2 separate regions of the Homo sapiens genome follow, and region 1 is linked to region 2. The links come from fine-mapping of genetic effects on gene expression. A gene starts in region 2. The other region holds a variant in brackets. All regions are shown on one strand. Distances are between the middles of the regions. Region 1 overlaps TTC17 (tetratricopeptide repeat domain 17). Region 2 holds the start of API5 (apoptosis inhibitor 5).

What was found. PIP is the estimated chance that this variant, and not a neighbour inherited with it, causes the effect. A credible set is the group of variants that fine-mapping cannot tell apart.
Region 1: its variant is the best candidate, but not a certain one, in a credible set for the expression of API5 in whole blood (INTERVAL, PIP 0.59).

Annotation. Positions count from the first base shown.
Region 1 is chr11:43,385,592-43,388,431 of GRCh38, forward strand. All of the region lies in intron 2 of TTC17 (tetratricopeptide repeat domain 17), which reads left to right. Among named protein-coding and RNA genes, the nearest start is that of TTC17, 28 kb to the left of the region's middle. The variant C/T (reference allele first, on the strand shown) is at 1,278.
Region 2 is chr11:43,310,444-43,313,283 of GRCh38, forward strand. API5 (apoptosis inhibitor 5) reads left to right here and starts at 1,553. Exons shown (of 14, transcript NM_001142930.2): 1 at 1,553-1,753. The coding sequence starts at 1,685. RefSeq lists an enhancer at 1,306-2,081.

The sequences.
Region 1 (2,840 bases), 75 kb after region 2:
AAATAAATGGCACAGTAACTCACATTTGTAATCCCAGATACTTGGGAGGCTGAAGCGGGAAGATTGCTCGAGCCTAGGAGTTTGAGTCCAGACAGGACAGCATAGCAAGAGCTTGTCTTTAAAAAGAAAAAAAAAAAAAAAGACTGAAAAGAAATGAGTTAAATATTCAACACGAGTTAGAAAACATAATAAACCAAATAACTAAAATAACCTAATATAAATATGGAAATAATATTATAAATAACATAAGAAATTAAACAGTCTCAAGAAAACAGTATTGTTTATTTAAAAAATAAACCAAACTCTAGCAGCAAGGCTTACCAGAAAAAGAAATGACAGAAAAAAAGAAATGTTAGTGATGAAAAAGCAGATATCAGATAAAGATTTTTTAAACTAAAGACATAATTATTAATACTACAAAAACTAGACCAATATATTTGAAAACTTAGGTATAATGTAAGGTTTTAGAAAACATGAAATATAAAAATTGATTGAATAAATGGGGAAAGGATAGACTTTTTATAAATGATATTAGGAAATTGATTGTCCATGTGGGAAAAAAATACCTTTCAATGTACAAAAAAAAAAAAATTTCCTATGCAGTTTAAAAATCTAAGTATGAAAAGTGAAACTTTTTACTAAAAAAAAATATTGATAGTCATGCATTGCTTAACGTCAGGAATATGCTCTGAGAAATGTGTTGTTAGGGGATTTCACCATTGTGGGAACATCATAGAGTGTACTTACACAAACCTAGGTGATAAAGCCTGTATAACATGTTACTGTACTGAATACTGTAGGCAGTTGTAACATAATGGTAAGTATTTGTATAACTAAGCATAAAAAAGGTACAGTAAAAATGTGGTATTATAATCTTATGAGACCACTGCTGGGGTCCCTTGTTAACCAAAAACATCTTTATGTGGTACTTGACTGTAGTTGATTGATGTAATTACGATCTCAGGTTTGGGAAGGATTTCTTAAATAAAACAAAGTACAAACAATTAAGAAAACAGTTGATAAAGTTGCCCACCTTATAATTAAAAGTTTTTCTTCAAATGACAAAATTAAAAGATAAGCTACAAACTAAAAGCTGATACTTGCCATGCATATAACTCATAGAGGATGAGTTTATAGAATTACTTTTTCCATAAATTTCTATAGATTAATTTCTTACGTATGTATGTATTTATTTATTTATTTATTCATTTTTGTGAGACAGGGTCTCACTCTTGCCCCAGCTGGAAAGCAGGTAGGATGATCATTGCTCACTATAA[C/T]CTCATTGCCTGGGCTCAAGCAGTCCTCCTACCTCAGCTTCTCCAGTAGCTAGGACTACAGGCAAGCACCACCATCATACTTGGCTAACTTTGTTTCATGGGGATGGGGTCTCGCAGTATTGCCAGGCTGGTTTCAAACTCCTGAACTCAAGTGATCCTCTAGGCTTGGACTCCCAAAATGCTAAGATTATAGGCACAAGCCACCACGCCAATCCTACTAATCAGTTTTTTAAAGAAGAAAAGCTATTGGGGGGAAAAAATAAGCAAACTTAAACAGTTAATTCACAAAATATCTCATAAACATATGAAAATATGTTCAATCTTATTAAATATTATTCTATTGGTTGATATAGTCCATATTTTATAGTGTATTAGTCAGCTTTTGCATTGGCAACAAATAGCCCGCAGAACCTCAGTGCTGTTCTCATGAAGGAAAGTGAAGGCTCAAGGAAGAACAACCAAATAATATAAGCCTGGTTAAAGTTTCTACTGAGAAGTGACATACACCATCTTTACTCACATTCCATTGGCCAAAGCAAGTCATGTGGCCATGCCTTGAAGTCAGTAGGGCAGGATAGCATATCTCCATGAAAAGTGTGGAGGGAATAATTGGAAACAGATCATAGGCTCTGTCCCCATTAATAATAACCCCAAAAATCTTAATGGCATAAACAATAAGGTCATGCTAAGTGATCATTTGGGGCTCTGTTGGGGATCTGTACCATGTCACTGTGATCCATAAGACAGGACCTAGGCCGACAGAGCAGCCTCTGTCTGTAATTTTGGCATTCTCAGTAGCTGAGGGAAAAAGAAAGAACATGGTGAAGCACACACTAACTCTATAAAACCTTTCCTATAAAAGGGTCACATGGGACTTATGTTACATTGGCCAAAGCAAGTCATGTTGCCCAAGCCTGAGTCCAGCAAAAACAGTGATGTATCATGTAAGGAGGGGCAGGATATTAGTGAATAGTAATACAGTCCATCACAATAACATAGTCTACTACCATAATAAATATAACAAAATAATGTTTCATACCTATTTGATTGGCATAAGTTAAAAAGTATGACAAAACCAAACATTGCTAAGATTCTGGGGATATAGGTGTTATGATCTACTGGGACAATTCTAATTGTTATAATCACTGTGAAAAGCAGATTGACACGTCTATATAAAACTGAAAATGTGCATCCCATATGACCCCCATATTTCTGCCCTTGCTAGAATTTTTCACATGTATACAAGGAGACATTTATAAGAATATAGTAGCATTTTTAATAGCAAAGAAAGTTTTTCTTAAAGAAGCAACATAAATGTTTACAGGAAAATGGATAAATACATATTTATACATCCATTTAAATGAAAAATTTAGAGCTATCCTGACTAATGTAGATAAATCTCAAAAACATACATACTTTTTTTAAGTTGTAGATACATTAAGTATGATACCATTTATATAAAATTTTAAAACTTACAAAGCAATGCTGTATTTTGATTTTTGATACACATATAATGAAAGTAATATTTTAGGAGAGTAAGAGTAATGTAGTATTTTATACAAA
Region 2 (2,840 bases):
CTCTGTGGCCCAGGCTGGATTGCAGTGGCATGATCTGGGCTCACTGCAACCTCTGCCTCCTATGTGCATATAATTCTTCTGCCTCAGCCTCTCATGCAGCTGGGACTACAGGTGCATGCCACCACGCCTGGCTAATTTTTGTATTTTTAGTAGAGACAGGGTTTCACCATGTTGACCAGGCTGATCTTGAACTCCTGACCTCAAGTGATCCACCCAACTCAGCCTTCCAAAGTGCTGAGATTACAGGCGTTAGCCACCGCACACGGCTATATATATATATAATATTATTATATAAATATAATTATCTTAATATATAAATATATATTATTATCTTAATATATATAATATATATTATTATCTTAATATATATAATATATTATTATCTTAATATATATTATTATCTTAATATATAATTATATAATAATATACAATATATAATATATATTATATATATAATTGTATATATAATATAATATATAATATATATTATAATATTAATATCATAATATTATATATGATATATAAATATAATAATATATTAATATATATTAAGATAATAATATTAATATATTAATTATATAATTAATATATTATATATAATATAAGATAATTATAATATATAATTGATAATATTGATATATTAATTAATATTATATCTCAATATATAGATATATTATAATTATATTATATAATTAATGTATTAATTAATATTATTATCTTAATATATATTAATATAATATTATTATATTTATATTATATATTATATATTTATATATTAATATAATATTATTATATTTATATTATATATTATATATTTATATATTAATATATAATGTTATATATTATATAATATATAATATTATATATTAATATATAATATTATATATTATATAATATATAAAATTATTATATATTAATATATAATGTTATATATTATATAATATATAAAATATTATATATTATATCATATTATATATATAATTTCATTTAAACTTGTATCTTAGAAATTCTTATCAGTAAGCGTACGTGATTTCATTTATTTATTATTCTTTTGGATACTGGACATAATCAGGTGGCCCCAATTCTTTACACTGGCAGCAAAGATAAGCAAATTCTTCCAGCAGGCCAAATTTGACCCCGCACTTGATGAGCGTGGTGGACACAGAGGGTTTTTTAATAGCATAGGAATGTTTTTTGCTTCCCACCGGACCCACTAGCCTCTAGTGCCACCGATTAATATTACCTTCCTTGAATCAGGAGGAAACCATTTGTGACTTCTCATATGTAAGATCTTCTAAGGGCAGAAACGCAATTGTCTTTGTATTCACTTCCCCGCCCACCCACACCCCTTCCATGGAGAGCCTGCAGCCAAGCTCAAGCTTTCAAAAAGGCGTGAGCTAATTCAATCATCCTTGCCGCTTTTTTGCTCCTCCAGGCTGTAGAGGGCGACAAAAACCGCGGAGGCGCATTGGGGTGGGGGGTGTCTACTGAAGGCCGCTCCCGACGTGCGCGTCTTTACGTAGACGTCGGGGGCGCAGCCGCGCTGTGCGCGGTGACTGGCGGCTGCACTGGCGGCAGCTGGAGGTGTAATAGTGCGGGTAGTGGGTTTGGAGAAGTTCCGAGGCGGCGGTGGCGCCGGTCAGGACAAGGATAGCGGAACCGGGCCCTGGGCTTGTCGCTCACCATGCCGACAGTAGAGGAGCTTTACCGCAATTATGGCATCCTGGCCGATGCCACGGAGCAAGTGGGCCAGGTGAGTTGAGTCCCCGGGCGGCCTGCAGGGCCTGGCGCTCCGCGGCCTTTCGAAAGCGCTTCCCGCCGCACTCCCCGGGCCGAGCGGGGGCTGCGGCTTCATCCTCCCGGGGCCTCCTAGCCTCCTCAGGCCGTCTCGTCGGGGTGGGCCTCTCTGGGAGTGTAGACTCTGGTTTCACCAGGGAGACCGCGGTCCCCAGGGTTCCAGGCTTCCTTGCCTCCCTTGCCCAGCCTTTTCTCACCGTGGCGTAACCTAACTCAGCCCGTTCAGGCTCACGTTAATTCTTCTCACGGAGCTTTTCTCTACAGGATTCTCTTAAGCCTTTCTCCTTTTCGGTGGAGCTCAGTGCTTCCAAGATTAGATCGGGAGTTTTCTTCATGAGGTCAAGATGTGTTTTTTTTGGGGGGGAGGCAAAATTCTGCTACTAATTGAAGAAGAGTGTTTAGGAGACAGAAGTTTGTGAGAAACAGAAGAGGGACTCTTTGGTCCAGACTTTGATGAGAGCTCACGGTTTCATTTATTCAGTGCATTTTTTTGAGTGCCGAGCGCTGGAGATACAGATGGAAAGGTCCGCGCTCTCCCAGAATGTACAGTTAGGAGGGAGTGTAGTAAGAAAGATAGGCATTGTGAGGCCCGGCTTGGTGGCTCACGCCTGTAATCCGAGCACTTTGGGAGGCCGAGGCGGGCGGATCACGAGGTCAGGAGTTCGAGACCAGCCTGACCCACATGGTGAAACCCTGTCTCTACTAAAAATACAAAAATTAGCCGGGCGTGGTGACACGCGCTTGTAATCCTAGCTACTCAGGAGGCTGAGGTGGGAGGATTGCTTGAACCCGGGAGGCAGAGGTTGCGGTGAGCCGAGATCGCTTCACTGCACTCCAGCCTGGGAGACAAAGCAAGACCCCGTCTCAAAAAAAAAAAAAAAGGTTTTTTTTAAAAATTTATTCTTTTTAATGAAACATGTTTGAAGAAAATAAAACAGGGCTGGGCGAAGGAGAGTGTGAGTGCGCAGCTCTGAATGGAGTTGTCTGGAAGAGCTCTCTTAACGATGCTTGCCCCCGATACACAGTTTCTCAGCAGTGTTGAA